Homo sapiens: one gene and its partners. The protein of the gene in region 1 purifies or fractionates together with the protein of each later gene. This does not show direct contact. Each region holds a gene or a part of one and is shown in the gene's direction. Other genes may lie near its edges.

Region 1 (4,266 bases):
TGAAGTGATGTGTGGGGAGGCTAGTAGGATTTTCTGGAGACTGGCAAAACTCAATCAAGAGTAAGAGGCCAGGTACAGTGGCTCATGCCTGTAATCCCAGCACTCTGGGAGGCTGCAGTGGGTGGATCACTTGAGGCCAGGAGTTTGAAACCAGCCTGGCCGACATGGCGAAACCCTATCTCTACTAAAAATACAAAAATTAGCCAGGCCTGGTGGTATGCACCAGTTGTCCCAGCTACTCAGGAGGCTGAGGCAGGAGAATTGCTTGAACCTGGGAGGCGGAGGTTGCAGTGAGCTGAGATCATGCCACTGCACTCCTGCCTGGGTGACAGAGGGAGTCTCTGTTTAAAAAAAAAAATAGAAGAGTAAGTGAAGCTTCTGCACTTTCCTCTCTATGCTTCTGTTTCCCTTTTTTGCATTCCTCTATTGGAGAGCAAAGCACGTGATACTGAAATCATTCCTATACTTTTGTCTTCTCCTTGAAGTTATGAAACCTTGTAGACACAGATTTTGCTATAATCACTTTATGTTCCCAGAATCTGCTATATAATAAATGTTTATTGAGTGAACAAGTAAAGGTAAGGGAGGTGGGGATTGAGGTTATTTGTGTTCTGTAGAGGGAGTCGGGGGCATGGTATGGTGTCACTGAGATTTTAACACAGCAAACGGATTTGTCTAATTTGAAATTGTATTCTAACCCCTAAGTGAGAGGTGGGTGAAGACAAAGTGACTGCATCTAGTGAGGATGGCTAGTAAGGTGTAGGCAGGTTTTAGAGGCTTGAAGGTAGAATTTAAAGACCTAGTATAGGGGACACATGCAGGTATAGGCAGCTTGAAGCTTAATAGACATGTGATGAAAGGCCTTTACCCAGGCATGAAAGGGCAGCAAAATTCCCATCAGACTGAATATATTGGTGGAAACAGGTTCTCCTCCTTATGTTTTGCCAGGATCAGCTAGAATCGGCTCCAGATGGTGTTGTAGCCAAGCCTGCAGGCCTCAGTACTTACTGCTGAGTAGAGCTGGAGACAGCAAGAACAGTTAACATTCAGGAAATGAACATCTTGTGTCATTGTGTGTGTGTGTTTCTGCATTTGAGCCATCTAAGCAAGATTGTCCCACTGTCACTTTGGCTGTGTTGATGATAAATTTGATCTCAGACAGTGATCAAAATGGACTGATCAGCCTTGCAGGCTGATTTGCTTTTTGTGTACAGCTGGGTTTTAAGATAGTCATGGTATTACATGTAGCCTTGAGTACAGTTTTCTAATGGTAGGCTGTGAGAATGGATCATCTTATTTAGAAAAGGTCTTCTCTCCAAAGGCTGTGACTTGGCTTAGTGGAAACTTCAAGGTTGATTCTTGCTGGTGTTTCTGTTGAGCAGGTGAGGCTTTATTTGAAGCAGATTACCCTGGATCCAAATATTGCTTCTCTCCCTTACTAACTGTGTATTTTGGGCAAGTTACTTAACCTTTCAGAGCTTTATAAGGTAGGGGTAACAGTGACTACCAGCAGGGTTGCTTGAATATCACTGCTGATGCCACGTGGTTCCTAGTATCAGGGCTGACACATGGTGGAAACTCACCGTGGCAAACTCACCATGGAAACCCAGTGGCAGTTTTGTCAGGAAAGCACTAAGGTCCTTTCTGATAAACAGGAAATGAACGCATCTCCAGAAGTTGTTCTCCTGCTGATTTTACTAACAAAAGATGATAAATGGCTGAGCGTTTGCTATTAGCACTGCACACCTAACTTCAAAACATAACTTGTGGAACAGATAGGAGATAACTACTCATTATTTTTTCTTTCACCTTTAGTAACAGCAGATAGTTTCTGAGCTACATGCTACATTTTTACGAACATTGCATAAGCCACTCAATGAGATCATCTTCCATGCAAGAATATTTAAAGCTGATTATAGCTTCGGGACATTTTTTCATTCTTGCATAAACCATAGTTTTCAATTATTTCAGCATCACTATGCATATTGTGGAGCTACATAGAAGTACTGGATGATTTCATTGTATCACACACCATTTGTTTTTGGAGAGGCTTTTTAGGGGGCGATACAAGAGATTTAAGGCATACTCTTGGTTTATTGGAAAATATGCTTTTTTATCTGCCTTCCTTTAGGAAGTCTTTAAAACTCACAAATTATGAATAGATTCAAAATTATTACATCTCTTTGTAACTACTTTACTTATAGATAAACTGTAATATTTTTAAATTCTTGGTAGAAACAAAGAGATCCTGGACTTTTAAATTTAAAATATGTTTCAAGTTTTACTGTTATTAGCCAAGAGTTATAGGTATTATCTGAAGAAGTATATTCAATGTAGGGTATTTTTATCTTTAAAAAGTAAGTTTTATTAATATAGATCTTTTTTAGCAAATGGTGAAAATCTATTTAAGGTTGATAAAAAAATCTTAGTGTATATTTTTCTCACATTTTAATATAACTGTTGGTTTTTCTGTATGCTTCTGTAGTCCTGACACTACAAGTGGTAAAATGTATAATGAGTATATGCAAGGGAGACTTTCTGATTCTTGCCTTGGGCAGCATTAGTTAATGATATTCATTCAGATAGAGCATGGTACAAATGGAGCATATTAAGAGGCTTAAATTAGGTCAAATTGAATAATTAAATTTATTTCTTTACTTAAAAACAGCTTAATCAGCTGAGAGTGCTGAAGTCTGAAAAAAGGTTTAATTAAATATTAATAGGGAGTTAATTTTTCAACTTTATCTTCATTTACAATGATTGTGTATGTTTTTTCCTCCTTTGTTACCTTTTATAGATACTTGGAGATGAAGTTCAACTTTTTTCACTTGATGAAGAATTTGATTATGACAATGTGATGCTAACCTCCAAGTTTAGTCCTGCAGAGATAGAGAACATCAAAGAGCTATGCAAGCAGCAGAAGAGAAAGGACACCAGCCCAGACTTAGAGAAATCCTGTGACTGATTCACAGAGGCATTTTGTGTGTGTGTGCTTATTTTAATTTTGTTCTTATTCTAGCAACATTAGAATAAAAGATAAACCTACTATAATTCCCTTTGTGGAAATTTACATGTGTGCACTCATTTATCAGAGTTACCTGTTATTAGGGATATAGAGCAACAAGGCCAAGGAGATTGCCGCCCTTACAGAATTCTCTCTCGCCATGTCATTGTTGCATCTTGTGGCTGGTTGGAGGAGATGGGAGTGGGAAATGGGAACAGGAATCAGCATCTATGGAAAGATCCATTTTGATGAAAGCATTGCACTAAGTGATGTGGGGTGCTGTATCAAAGGTCAGAAACATGATCCCACTTTCTTGAGAGTAAAGAACAATTGCAGATGAAAACACATTGTAGCATATTAGAGAAAAATTGCCAATATGAGTAGGTCTGGGTCCTAGCTGTCCAGAGATAGTGCTATCAATGTGAGTGTTGTTGAGAGATTAGGCTTCTGGAATTGATTGGGAAAGGCTTTACTTAAAAAAGTCATCTGAGAATTGATGATATGTCACATATTAAATTCTTGCATTTCATTATTACCATTAAACCATGTGTGATAACGGTTACAAAATACAAGGAAGATCTCTATCTCCAGAAGCTTAAAATACAACTTGAGAAGGCAAAACAACTAGAGAATATAAAAACACATGATGAAGCGCTAATTATGTAGCATACCCATACATGCATTAAGGCAAGGAGAAAAGAGGGATGAAGGCCCAGAGGAAGGGGGAGTAATATGTTTCAATGAATTTTTATTATTGAAGGAATTACTAACAAATTGAATGTACTTAACTGATTTTCTTTTCTCTTTCTTTTAAGCACACTTTGTTTTTCAGAGCAGTTTTATGTTCACAGAAAAATTGAGGAAGACAGCATCGTTTTCATGCACCCCCTGCGTCTCCCCAACTTAGACTTCCTTACTATCAATATCCCACACCAGAGTTGTTTTTTTTGTTGTTTTATTTTTTGCGATTAGTTTTCTTTTTGTGTGTGTGTGTGTGTGTGTGGTAAGAACTTCACATGAGCTCTACTCTCTTCAATGTTTAAGTGTACAATACAGTCTTGTTACCTATATGCACAGTGTTGTGCAGCAGATCTCTGGAATGTATTCATGTATAACTGAAACTATACCCACGGAACAGCAACTCTCCATTTCCCCCTTCCCCTAAACCCTGGCAACCTCCATCCTACTTTCTGCTTCTATGAGTTTGACTTTATAGATAGCTCATATAAGTGGACATGGGGTATTTGTCCTTCTGTGATTGA
Region 2 (4,630 bases), on another chromosome or scaffold:
ATGAAAAATAAGCATGTTTAAGTTTAGATCTTTATAGAAGATTTCAAGATCTGCAAATAAATATTATCCCCTCTTTTTTAGACTTCCTGGGAATGAAAATGGTTGGTGAGCTGCTACGAATGTCGGGTGCCTTTTTCATGCGGCGTACCTTTGGTGGCAATAAACTCTACTGGGCTGTATTCTCTGAATATGTAAAAACTATGTTACGGGTAAATGCAAATAATTCCCAACTACTCTTAAGCCATATTTTCTTCACTGATGTTTGCTCATTTAAACTCTTAACTTCTGAATAGAACACTTAGCTATTTTGCTTTCCCTCAAGAACTGCTTATAACCTCAGCAATTGGTTTAATCTGTGTGACTCTCTTGTTTAATTTTCACTGTAAGCTGTGTTTGTTCAGGAAGCTTGGGAGGGAGCTTGGGAAAAGGAATCAAAAGAAGCATTTATCATTTTGAGAGTAGGCAATGGGTTTTGTGTTTTGTTTGTTTTCTCTTTAAAGAATGGTTATGCTCCTGTTGAATTTTTCCTCGAAGGGACAAGAAGCCGCTCTGCCAAGACATTGACTCCTAAATTTGGTAGGTCACTACAGATTAAAAGGAAAAATACAAACCCAAAGACATCAGCTGCTACATAAAACTTGACGCTTTATTTAACAAGATATTCTTTTCAAGTGTAAATGTATAACTGTTGATATTTACGGGATTAGTGTATAATGTATGCTTTTAGTATTTTCCGTTTATGTGCTCATGTTTGCTCTGCTCTTCAATATGTTGATGAAGCATTTCTCCCTGTGTTTTGCAGGTCTTCTGAATATTGTGATGGAGCCATTTTTTAAAAGAGAAGTTTTTGATACCTACCTTGTCCCAATTAGTATCAGTTATGATAAGATCTTGGAAGAAACTCTTTATGTGTATGAGCTTCTAGGGGTTCCTAAACCAAAAGAGTCTACAACTGTACGTGAGCTTGATTTTAGCTTAATTGAGAGAATGTGCTGACTGACACATCAACTAATTTCTAAATTTACTGCTTTTCGTTTTCTTCCCCCCCTGTTATGGTACTATTAGGGGTTGCTGAAAGCCAGAAAGATTCTCTCTGAAAATTTTGGAAGCATCCATGTGTACTTTGGAGATCCTGTGTCACTTCGATCTTTGGCAGCTGGGAGGATGAGTCGGAGCTCATATAACTTGGTTCCAAGGTGTGACCTGTGTTTTAATAACTGTCTTAGAAATGAGGATTAAAATCCAAAGGTGTGAGTTGCAATGCTGGAGTTGACCACTTCTCTTGATTTACTTAAGATTACAGAGAAAATGATCAGAAATGCTGTTATCATTCCGTTTTCATCAGTGGAAACCTTCAATTAAAGAAGAATTATGTGTTTGTCCCAAAAAAAGATAAGCTGTGAGATATGTATGTCAAATATGCAAAATCAGACAATGATCATGTTTCTCAAGGGAACTAAAGTGGGAATAAATAATGCCATTATTAACAAGTATATGTGCAGGAATTGTTGAGCACTATTGGTAAGCTAGCCAAAGTATGTACTATTATTTTTGACCCTAGAAAGGATTGCATAATGGTAATGAATGGGAGTGAGTCCTTAGTCTCTAGAGAGTTATAGTTTTATAGGCAAGAAAATATATTAGGTTCTTTCAGGATAAAGAACACAGATACACATTTGAGTTTTCTTAATTAGGAGAAATATACCTGGACAAGTAAGGGAGACAAACCATCTGCCCCTCCAGGCCTCATGTGCTGCAACATCATTTGTAACTTATCTGTAGCTTTAGCAGTTTCCCAGCAGCTACATTAGTCATCACAGACGCTTATGTTAGTTTTTTTCCTGACACAGGCTCTCTCTTTAGATCTCAAATTGGTTTGGCTGGCTATTACCTAGTACAGGGCACCCTTACTGGCTGCATCTTTCACATTAAGCCACCTGTGTGGCAATTTTTAGGTCATGTGTGTATCTCTGCTCCAGCCAGCTCTGTGCAGGCCTTATTGTACTATTCAAAGTTTGGTAATCCATGCATGAAGTCAGACAAACTGAATGGCACCCATTCAGTATAAAATAGTTATTATATAATCTGTTAAGTGTGTTCTACAATGGAGATATGTTCAGCGTGCTATGCATTCTGAAAAGATAGTAATTTAGTCTACTGGGGCAGGCATCCATTCTCAGAGAAACGATGTATCCTATTTAGGAAGCAACAAAAGTTTTTTGCCTGGAACCAGGAATAATAGGACCCTGGACCCCTTCAGTATTTTTACCATCTCTCAAGAGGATATTCCAGAAATGTATGGTCAGATTACACTATAGTAAAGCAAAGGAATACTGTTTGCACCTGACCTGAGAGAATTCAGTTGGCACAAAGTATGAGAAGCCTTCTAAAACGTCTAGAGTCTTTTTCCATCCCCATTTGTCTAAGTAACAGAACTGTAATTTGTTGCTCTGTGCTCTTCCTTTTAGATACATTCCTCAGAAACAGTCTGAGGACATGCATGCCTTTGTCACTGAAGTTGCCTACAAAATGGAGCTTCTGCAAATTGAAAACATGGTTTTGAGCCCCTGGACCCTAATAGTTGCTGTTCTGCTTCAGAACCGGCCATCCATGGACTTTGATGCTCTGGTGGAAAAGACTTTATGGCTAAAAGGCTTAACCCAGGCATTTGGAGGGTTTCTCATTTGGCCTGGTATGTAGGTAGGACATATGTGTTGAGAATGCTTGCTTAATTTGGAAGAGTTAAAACCTGGACCTGAAAAATCTATAGAGGACTTGAGCAAAGGATTGCTCAGAAAGAGAAAGGACAGGCCGGGCGCGGTGGTTCACACCTGTAATCCCAGCACTTTGGGAGGCCAAGGCAGGTGGATCACGAGGTCAGGAGATTGAGACCATCCTGGCTAACGCGGTGAAACCCCGTCTCTACTAAAAAATAGAAAAAATTAACCAGGCGTGGTGGTAGGCGCCTGTAGTCCCAGCTACTCGGGAGGCTGAGGCAGGAGAATGGCATGAACCCAGGAGGCGGAGCTTGCAGTGAGCCGAGATTGTGCCACTGCACTCCAGCTAGGCAACAGAGCGAGACTCTGTCTCAAAAAAGAAAGAAAAAGAGAAAGGACACCAAATCTGTTTTTATCACTATAGGACACAGTGAACACAGCACGTTGATTATTTGAGAATAATTGTTTACATGTCATTTCCCACTACGAGACTCTGAATATCTTGAGGACTAGAATACCATTTCCTTGGCACCTAGTACGGTGGAAAATAAAGTCATGAATCCTAGCCAGGCATGGTGGTACACACCTATAATCCCAGCTACTTGGGAGGCTGAGGTGGGAGGATCACTTGAGCCCAGGAGTTCGAGACCAGCCTCAGTAACATAGTGAGACCCCATCTCCAAAAAAAAAAAAAAAAGGCCGGGCGTGGTGGCTCACACCTGTAATCCCAGCACTTTGGGAGGCTGAGGCGGGCGGATCACGAGGTCAGCAGTTCCAGACCAGCCTGACCAACATGGTGAAACTCCGTCTCTACTAAAAACACAAAAATTAGCCGGGCATGGTGGCGTGCACCTGTAATCCCAGCTACTCGGGAGGCTGAGGCAGGAAAATTGCTTGAACCTGGGAGGCAGAGATTGCAGTGAGCCAAGATTGCGCCACTGCACTCCAGCCTGGGTGATAGAGCGAGATTCCGTCTCAAAAAAAAAAAAAAATTGTACAGGCTACAGTTGGAAATGCGTTTTTTTTTAAAGACCAGATAATTATTTGAAGTCAAGTACCTACTGTTCTTTGATCAACCCAATACTGAATACCTCCTCTGTGCTGGGTACTACCAGGGATATGAAGATGAACAAGATGCCATCCCCATCCTGGACGTTCCCCTGGGTTGCAGAGGGCAGGGTGGGTGGGTAATGTGTAAACAAGTTGTGAGGGTTCAGTGAACAGAGACAAGGAGCAACATGCATGCTGCAGAGGGTTCCTGAGAGTGCTGCAGAGGAAAGGGACCATACTCAGGAAGACTTCACAGAAGCGACTTTTGAACCCTTCAGGAAGACCAGGAGAGGATCCTCGCCAAGGCAGGGATGAGGAATGCAAGATGGGAGGCTTGGGCCCCAGAGATTCATCAGTGATATTAAAGTGTTGGCCCAGATGGGGTGGTGGGTAGATGGAAAATAAAGATGGACCTCCCCGCCTCCTCCCCACCATCCACCATCAGAAGACTGGAGGTATAGAAACAAGTTAGGAGGCTGCTCTGTCCCAATGAGAAATGCAGGATGCCTGAGATGCCTGAGCCGCAGCAGTGGAGGCACTCAGGGCACAGCCAAGAGATGAGGAGGATTTACTGACAAAAATGCCAGTCACCAAGAGAGAGACAAATCAGACACCTGTTCTCAGTGCTGTGATGGGCTGGGTCTGGTAGGAGGCAAAGGATGTGTTAATTATGATACAAGTAGCAAGTGTTGGATGTCATGAGAAATAGCTAAAAGGGCTCAAACCCATCATTGTTTGGCCCAGGAACATATGAAAACATAGGTACTTGTTTTTCTAAAGTGTTTTGCTTTTTCAGGATGGGATAAATGCCATAACTAATCCATAACTAAGAGTATCTGTTCAGTGTCACTACAGTTCTGTTC
Region 3 (4,630 bases), on another chromosome or scaffold:
CTTCTTTTTTTTCTTTGTCTTTTTTTTTTTTGGTTGGGGGACATTTCTGGCACACTAAAGTTTTGAATTTTAATGTAGTCAAATTTATCCATGTCTTCATAGGTTTATGTTTTGTGTTAGGATTAGAAGGGCCTTTTCCAACCTAAAATATTTATCTGTGGTTTTTTCCTAACATTTTCTTGGTTAAGAAACATTATTTTTTACATTTAAATTTTTTATCCAAATATTTGATCCAACATAAGAAGGACTTAGGCATCCAGCTTTATTTATTGGTTTGTTGAGATGTGTCTTGGAAGTGTGGAGCAAGTACTAGACTAAGAGAAAGACCGCCCATTACTAGTTCTAACTGGACCAATTAGTTTCTGAACTTGTGAAAATAATTATTCTGTGCTTTGTCTTTTTGGTCTATATAATGAGGAATTAGTAGATGTTTCCTAAACTTACTTCCACACATAGGATTCTTTAATTTGAAATTGTTGAGGGCAGAACTCACAGTTGAAACCATGTTAGTAATAGCAATATCACATTGGACAGAGAATCCCTAGCATTTCAAAGCTTAAAAATTTGGAAAAACTCTAAGCTACAGAATTAATAGTATTTTAATGCCTTTAAGTGTAATGTGTATTTATAACAGACAAAACAAGTCAAAATGTGATTCAAGTCATCAGGTATGGTATTTTTATTGTGCACCCACTGCATGGCCAGCGCAATTACAGAACCGGGTAGGATAAAACTGCTTTAAGGAATTTTTATTTTCACTGGAAAAACAAAATAGAAGATATACTCACAGGAAACATTTACTCATTTAAGATGATTTTGCACCAAAATCTGGAAGATAGCAAGAGTCACAATACTTGAGAAGTTCCTGCATGTTAGTGTTAACTTTTGATCAAGTTATTTAGCATTCAAAAATAACATAATAGGCTCAGTTGGCATAGAGATGTGTTTCATGTGGCCTATACAATATTTTTGGGTAAAAATGAATTCTTTGTCATTATCTTTAAAAATCGACATAAAAACCCATATTCTGGCTTCTCTTGAAAGTAAGTTTTTTTTCTTTTGGCAGCACTAAGTCAATACGTGTCTACACCACTTGTCAGGGCACACTCTGTTCAGTCACCACACCCTAACAACTCTCTATTACATCACTGTGTTTGTTTGTTTGTTTGTTTGTTTGAGACAGAGTCTCACTCTGTTGGCCAGGCTGGAGCACAGTGGCACGATCTTGGCCCACTGTAACCTCTGCCTCCTCAGTTCAAGTGATTCTCCTGCCTCAGCCTCCTGAGTAGCTGGTATTACAGGCATGTGCCACCACGCCCAGCTAATTTTTTTTTATTATACTTTAAGTTCTAGGGTACATGTGCACAACGTGCAGGTTTGTTACATATGTATACATGTGCCATGTTGGTGTGCTGCACCCATTAACTCGTCATTTAACGTTACGTATATCTCCTAATGCTATCCCTCCCCCCTCCCCCCACCCCACAACAGGCCCTGGTGTGTGATGTTCCCCTTCCTGTGTCCATGTGTTCTCATTGTTCAATTCCCACCTATGAGTGAGAACATGCAGTGTTTCGTTTTTTGTCCTTGCGATAGTTTGCTGAGAATGATGGTTTCCAGCTTCATCCATGTCCCTACAAAGGACATGAACTCATCCTTTTTATGGCTGCATAGTATTCCATGGTGTATATGTGCCACATTTTCTTAATCCAGTCTATCATTGCTGGACATTTGGGCTGGTTCCAAGTCTTTGCTATTGTGAATAGTGCCGCAATAAACATACGTGTGCATGTGTCTTTATAGCAGCATGATTTATAATCCTTTGGGTATATACCCCGTAATGGGATTGCTTGGTCAAATGGTATTTCTAGTTCTAGATCCCTGAGGAATCGCCACACTGACTTCCACAATGGTTGAACTAGTTTACAGTCCCACCAACAGTGTAAAAGTGTTCCTGTTTCTCCACATCCTCTCCAGCACCTGTTGTTTCCTGACTTTTTAATGATCGTCATTCTAACTGATGTGAGATGGTATCTCATTGTGGTTTTGAATTGCATTTCTCTGATGGCCAGTGATGATGAGCATGTTTTCATATGTCTTTTGGCTGCATAAATGTCTTCTTTTGAGAAGTGTCTGTTCATATCCTTCGCCCACTTTTTGATGGGGTTGTTTTTTTCTTGTAAATTTGTTTGAGTTCTTTGTAGATTCTGGATATTAGCCCCTTGTCAGATGAGTAGATTGCAAAAATTTTCTCCCATTCTGTAGGTTGCCTGTTCACTCTGATGGTAGTTTCTTTTGCTGTGCAGAAGCTCTTTAGTTGAATTAGATACCATTTGTGAATTTTGGCTTTTGTTGCCATTGCTTTTGGTGTTTTAGACATGAAGTCCTTGCCCACGCCTATGTCCTGAATGGTATTGCCTAGGTTTTCTTCTAGGGCTTTTATGGTTTTAGGTGTAACATGTAAGTCTTTAATCCATCTTGAATTAATTTTTGTATAAGGTGTAAGGAAGGGATCCAGTTTCAGCTTTCGAGATGGAGTTTTGCCACGTTGGGCACACTGTTCTCAAACCCCTGACCTCAGGTGATCCACACTCCTTGGCCTCCCAAAGTGCTAGCATTACAGGCATGAGCCATGGTGCCTGGCCTCACCGTGGTGGTTTTATTTATTTTATTTGCTTGTCCCTCATAGACATTTTAATGTTGTAATCCAATCCCTGCTGTTTTACAGAAGTGGTGAAACTAAGACCTAGAAAGACCACCATTTATTGGCAGAGTATAGGCTAGAACCCAGACTTTCTCACCCCCAATCCAAGGCTCTTTTCTCTTTCTTCTATTGGAAGAAATTGTGGAGGAAATCAACAAGTTACTGTTTCCTTTTTTTTTTTTTTTTGAGCAGTAATACTTCTCAGCTATTAAAACATAGTGTAAAAGAAGCTACCCTGTCCACTTCTACTTATTTCTGCTGTTTTTGTAAATATATATATTTTATTCAACAGCAAAAAGAGACAAGTGAATATAATTAATATAATATAATACATTACAATACAATACAATATTAATTGAGATAGATCTGTACTCTCGTGAGTTGTTCTGAGATTATGGACCTGAAACTTTCTAATGCTGGTGTCTTTAAAAAGAAAAGAAAGAAAAGCCTCTGTAACAAAATACTCAGGATACAGGTTTTTTTACTCTAAAGTCTCATATTTAAATAGTAATGATGGAATAAGAAAATTAATTCACCCCATTTGCTTAATTGTTATATCATGGAAAGCAGCATCCCAGTGTAAGGGCATTAACTCTTGTGTATCCAGTTATGTTGATCATATAATGCATTTTGAGGAAACATGTTCTGTTTTTTTACTTGGTAATCCTGCATGCTTTTTCAATTCTTTATCTTGTTAAAGGACTTGCAATTGTGACCAAATATATTACAAAGGGCTGGAAAGAAGTTCATGAATTGTATAAAGAAAAAGCACTCTCTGTGGAGACTGAAAAATTATTAAAGTATCTGGAGGCTGTAGAGAAAGTGAAGCGCACAAGAGATGAGCTAGAAGTCATTCATCTAATAGAAGAACATAGATTAGTTAGAGAACATCTTTTAACAAATCACTTAAAGTCTAAAGAGGTGAGTGAATTATATGTTACAGCATGTGATTAAACATGAGTAATTTAGTGTAGGTGCTAAAAGGATAAACTTGGGGTAGCTATATATTTATACTTTTAAAAAGAAATTATTTAAAATATATCTTGAAATTGATGTCTGTTTAAAACACCTACCATGATGTCCAACATGATGTAGGTGGCATTTGTGTTAGTTTCACTCCAGAAAATCTACTGCCTTGCTAATTAAAAAAAAAATCATCTATGCATTTCCTTCATAAAATATACTTCACATCCTTTTTCTAGTAAAAAACAAGTTAGCTTATTTGATAAGCCTTTTACTTAGACATTTTTCATTCTGAAAGTACTTTGAACCCCAAATGAAAGCCTCAGAGACTGTATTATGAATATTTTTTTATATAGGTATGTTATACTGATTTATTTTCCCTTAATTCCTGGTATTTCTGCCTATGTTATTGCAATAGGTATGGAAGGCTTTGTTACAAGAAATGCCGCTTACTGCATTACTAAGGAATCTAGGAAAGATGACTGCTAATTCAGTACTTGAACCAGGAAATTCAGAAGTATCTTTAGTATGTGAAAAACTGTGTAATGAAAAACTATTAAAAAAGGTAAGCATTATCATTGTTCTTTATTAGCTACTACTAACTGAGAAAGTGGCTCCTAAATTTTAGAAATGCCGTCAGTGCATTTTTAAGGTATTTCGAGATGTTCATTATACCAAATTGCATTATGGCTCTTAAGTGTAAGTTTAATACATTTTCATTTTTCTCTTTTCTATATGAAATGTAGTTATTAGCTACAATAACACAAAAATCTAAGGAGTATACATAATCACTGTTTTTTGCTAAAATTTTCCTTATACTTTGTTTCTAGGCTCGTATACATCCATTTCATATTTTGATCGCATTAGAAACTTACAAGACAGGTCATGGTCTCAGAGGGAAACTGAAGTGGCGCCCTGATGAAGAAATTTTGAAAGCATTGGATGCTGCTTTTTATAAAACAT
Region 4 (4,630 bases), on another chromosome or scaffold:
TAAGCCAAGAGGAATTGTTGCTAATGAGAGACAAAGATCTGAAAGAAAAACAATCACTGGGCTTGTGTTTAATCACTTTTTATTTTCTCAGATCTCCATCATGTCATTATCTGGCTTTGGTGCTTACATAACTTAACTAGGAGAGTTCAGGCAGCAATGGGAATAGGAGGGCAAAATGAAAGGTTAACAATTTAAATGGATCACCTGCAGATGCGTGATATGGATGGAGATGAAGCCTATTAAGGACCTAATTTTAGAAGAAGCTCTTGACATCAATCATTTGTGAAAAGGGTTTTTTTTTTTTTCTTACCTACACACAAGGTTTTGTACACTTGTCTACAAACCTTAAGCATTGATGCATCTGATCATCAGCTTGTGGGATTACTAACACCAAGCCACTTTGAAAGAGCAGTCAAGGTTATTAACTTTGGCAGGAAATGAAAATTTGGCCTTAATATACATGTGAAATTGAATTGTCTGTAGCACAAAGCTTTGGAGATTACCCATGCAAAATGAGAAAACTATCTAAATTTAAAATTGTCCTCAGTACAGGGAAAGTAATTTTGCAGACAGCATTTTTACTGCATTGAAATCCGTGAAGATTGGCTCTATTAATTTAAATTTAAACAGAGGTTCTGTGTCTTCTAAAAATCGCAAATGAGATGGAAAATGTACTTCAAGGGAAAAAATGGGTTTCTGGATATGCTGCAGGCAGGCAGGCAGGCTTCCTACTCCACATCTTTGAGTCTGCCCTGAGACCAGTTAGCTTCAGAGGGAAGGCTCTTTCCACTGTGACAGGCATTTGAAATAAGGACATGCAGACAATGCCTCTATTACATATTTCAGGCTTCAAGAGTAGGGTAAGAAACTGATCAAGTAGAGCCCAAGGCAAAAGTCATTGGTGGCTTTTACATTACATTTACCAAAGTAGGTGGGCCCTCGACAGAAAAAAATCTAGGGGTTGAATATTTTTTCTCAGCTATCAAATAACTTTCTTATAATCCCTGCCTGGAAGGATACTGGGGCAGGGGATTTGGTTACATTAACTACCTTTTCACAAAAAAAAAAAAAAAAACACACACACACACAAAACAAACTTTTACGTAAAGAGAAATTGAAATTTTCATTCCCTGGTCTTTGAATTTCTTTAGTTCACAACAAACCCTTTCTTATTAAATAATTATTGGTAAATCAATTACATTTATTTGGAACCCTAGTTTAATGACACATCATTTCGACATCAAGAAGAATACATTAACACAATAACCAGAGTACAACAAAGACTAATAATAGGCTGTGTGTCTCTTTATTGGCCAGAGCCTTAGAGACCTTATTATTTAATAGAGTTGTCATAATGAGGAAACTGAGGACAAGTAAGTGGTTGGCTTATGCTGGTTCGTAGAGTTGCTTACTAATAGAGCTGAGCCTAGAATTAAAGTCACCCAAACTTCCAGATCATTAATAAATTTGCTACAGGTTATCAAAAATCGCTGCTGAGTAGACACCATGCCAAAAATAATAAAATAACTGCCTTTCCTCATCTTTACATTGTTTCCTTTTTTTTTTTTCAGGTATTGCTGTGCTTTACTTACATCTTTATGATGTATTTGGGGACCCTGCCTACCTACAGTTAGCACATGGCTATGTAAAGCAAAGTCTGAACTGCTTAACCAAGCGCTCCATCACCTTCCTTTGTGGGGATGCAGGCCCCCTGGCAGTGGCCGCTGTGCTATATCACAAGATGAACAATGAGAAGCAGGCAGAAGATTGCATCACACGGTAATCATGTTTCTATATGAGGATTATTTTCTAGCATCATTATGCATTAATTCTGCATGTGTTAACAAAAGAACATTCTAGTGAGTTTACTTTTCTCTTAGCAGATAAATCTCACTGCTGTCATTTGATCAATTGTCATATTCCTGTGTTGTAGTTAAGGAACAACGATTATAATCCCTATTTTAGTGCAAGATAAAAGACACTGTCATGTTCCAGATTAAACATCAGTTCAATAATGTAAATGAGATCGAAAGCCTTAACATATGATTACTAATCCAAAGTGCTATCCAAGATCTGTAATTCAAGGAAATGCAGTTCAGTTCCTACAGGTGGGCTGGGAGAGTCCTTCTAAGGGACCACAGACTGATTCAAAACGGCCTTTCTTAGAGGCAATGACATGCACATCCTGATTTTCATTTTGGTATAAATTATGGTGGTCCACTAGAAGCTGGTGAATTATGAAGAATTATTAAATGTTTGTACTAATAGACTTTAATTGTTGCCTTACCAGAGTTTATTAAGCACTCTTTCGGAGTTCTAAGAACCCTGGCTGCCGTGCAACTCTGCATGCATCGCTCTTAGGCTCCACTGCGCGTGCTAACACTCCAGCAACGTTTTAACCAGTGACTGTCCCTGAGTTGACCATGGTGTTTGATTCCCACTATTCTTTCTTATAGATTACTGTTAGGATGGCATTACCATCACCAATTTAGTTTGTCTAGGATCCGTTGGCTAATCTTATACTGTTTGCTGGTGTATATTTAAACAACAGGCTTTTTGGACTTTTTAAGATATCATAGTGCTGTATTCAAAAAAGGAATGATTTATACCCCTATTGTTTAGGCGTGTGTGTGTGTGTGTGTGTGTGTGTGTGTGTGTGTGTGTGTATGTATGCATATCTCCCTTCTCTCCCAATTTTTTCCCATGCAGTGATATTTTCTTATTGTAACTAACTTTTTCCACTGGAAAGTGTAACAAAAAGAAGGGGTGGGAGTCTTGCTCCACCCAAAATGATTTGGGAATCATTATATTGGATCATTTTCTGAATTGACGTATTCTTCAAAACACCTTTTTTTAAATACATGCCTATGCTACATTTCTTAGGGGCTAGACATTACATAGTATAACTTTAAAAACACATTACTTAGTGTGTCTAGAGGAAAAAAACTGAACATTCCACTCCAGAGCTGAGAAGCTTTTAATATAAAACCTGTCACCAAGCTCGACCAAAATGAAAGATGAAACAAAACAGTGATTTCCCCCAAAGTTTAAAGTGTGTTCCTTCCATAGTAGCTGACTTGCATAAGACTTGCCAATACAAAAACTGTTCCATACTCACCTAAATTTGAAACACAGAGACTACCTTTTAATTTTTTTTACATAGCTGATGTTTAAAGCCATCAGCCAACAACTGCTTTAGAGGTCCACAAGATACTCTCATTCAGTGAATCACTTGTTAAGTACCATCAGATAAATTGTAGTGCTCCCAATATTCTATATATAATGCCAGCCTTTCCATAATACATGCAGCCACATTTTAATAGTTTGCTATGTGAGAAATGTTAATGTGTTCAATGAGACCAAGATTCATAGATTCAAACAGATGGGAATTTGTATCAAAGCACTAATTAAACAAAATTAAATATGTGTCTTTACCGGCTGCTTAGCTTCTTCTGTAGCTTGTATACCTGGGGACAACACGCCAACTCTAGGGAGCAGCACTTGCCAATGTTAACTCACCTATACAACCCTCTTCTTCATGAAATCTTGAGGGCCTATTCTAACACACTCTTTGGGAAATGGTACAATATCAATATTAGTGTATTAAAATGCTCCTAAGAGTATGCTAAGATTTTTGTTGTTTTTGGTATATTGGTACTAAGGGTGTTGTTGTCATTTACCTTTTTAAATTTTGACATTTCGACAGTATTTATAGCCAGTAGGCTTGTTAAGGTTAAAAATATAGTATGTGAATATAATAGGAAAATACACTATTTGTGGCTATAGCTTTGATTTTTTTCAGATTTTTTATTTTATACAAAACAGAAAAAGAATGACTTGGAATGATTTGTAAGTTACGGAGTTTGCTTTATCTTTTCAAAGGAAAAATCTAGAAATTTGACTTAATTTCAAGAAATCCAAAATTATTTAATATAAGTTATTTAGTAAACCTCCTTTAACTTTTTACTAAACCTTTTTTCTCATTTTACAGACCTTTTGAGATCCCACGCTCACATTCTCTGTGTACTGCCTTTGTTGTGCTTCATTGCCAACATCATGTTCTAGCTAGCTTGCTTTTTCTACATTTTCTTAATGTAATGTTCTTTCAAAAGCATAATTTTTAAGTTTTAGAGACCAGACAGTCCTTTGAGATCATCAAAAGTCTAATCCTTACAGAAATTGAAATCCAAGGAAATCAGTGTTTCCCTATAGTACATATTCTTAACCTTGGGCCAGAATCTTAGGGTTTCTGGCAGTGTATAAAACCCCCAAATTATATTCAAGGAGGGAGCATTTGTGCTTTTCTTAAAGGGATCTATAACTCCCCAAAAGGAGGGTGTGTGTGTGTATGTTCATGTTCAAATTGTCCTACAAATGGCTGGGGAGTGGAGGGGAGGACAATACATTGCATTAATTTGTTCTACTGCCTGATACATATCAGATCTGTTTTCATCCCACCCACTTCTACACATCAGTGCCACAACATGAATAAAGTGTGTTGCCTGTTCCCAATTAGATGGCTAACCTAACATTTATAGTGCTTTGGGGCCAGTACTTAGAATGATGAAGCGCTCTGGCTTTCTGGTCCAGAAATATATAACCTCCCTTCTTGTAGTGTGACGAGTCAGTA

What was found.
Region 2: the proteins of IFTAP (region 1) and GNPAT purify together in Homo sapiens (affinity purification with mass spectrometry; one large-scale study listed by BioGRID and IntAct). This does not show direct contact.
Region 3: the proteins of IFTAP (region 1) and RO60 purify together in Homo sapiens (affinity purification with mass spectrometry; one large-scale study listed by BioGRID and IntAct). This does not show direct contact.
Region 4: the proteins of IFTAP (region 1) and LANCL1 purify together in Homo sapiens (affinity purification with mass spectrometry; one large-scale study listed by BioGRID and IntAct). This does not show direct contact.

What each region holds. Positions count from the first base shown.
Region 1 is NC_000011.10:36,656,222-36,660,487, forward strand, and holds the end of IFTAP (intraflagellar transport-associated protein), read left to right. Parts: intron 1-2,797; coding exon 2,798-2,965; 3' UTR 2,966-3,051; downstream 3,052-4,266. UniProt on the Homo sapiens protein: Seems to play a role in ciliary BBSome localization, maybe through interaction with IFT-A complex.
Region 2 is NC_000001.11:231,265,212-231,269,841, forward strand, and holds part of GNPAT (dihydroxyacetone phosphate acyltransferase), read left to right. Parts: intron 1-81; coding exon 82-209; intron 210-500; coding exon 501-576; intron 577-802; coding exon 803-954; intron 955-1,065; coding exon 1,066-1,196; intron 1,197-2,468; coding exon 2,469-2,692; intron 2,693-4,630. UniProt on the Homo sapiens protein: Dihydroxyacetonephosphate acyltransferase catalyzing the first step in the biosynthesis of plasmalogens, a subset of phospholipids that differ from other glycerolipids by having an alkyl chain attached through a vinyl ether linkage at the sn-1 position of the glycerol backbone, and which unique physical properties have an impact on various aspects of cell signaling and membrane biology.
Region 3 is NC_000001.11:193,072,416-193,077,045, forward strand, and holds part of RO60 (RNA-binding protein RO60), read left to right. Parts: intron 1-3,404; coding exon 3,405-3,625; intron 3,626-4,085; coding exon 4,086-4,232; intron 4,233-4,497; coding exon 4,498-4,630. UniProt on the Homo sapiens protein: RNA-binding protein that binds to misfolded non-coding RNAs, pre-5S rRNA, and several small cytoplasmic RNA molecules known as Y RNAs.
Region 4 is NC_000002.12:210,452,256-210,456,885, reverse strand, and holds part of LANCL1 (glutathione S-transferase LANCL1), read left to right. Parts: intron 1-1,571; coding exon 1,572-1,779; intron 1,780-4,630. UniProt on the Homo sapiens protein: Functions as a glutathione transferase. Catalyzes conjugation of the glutathione (GSH) to artificial substrates 1-chloro-2,4-dinitrobenzene (CDNB) and p-nitrophenyl acetate.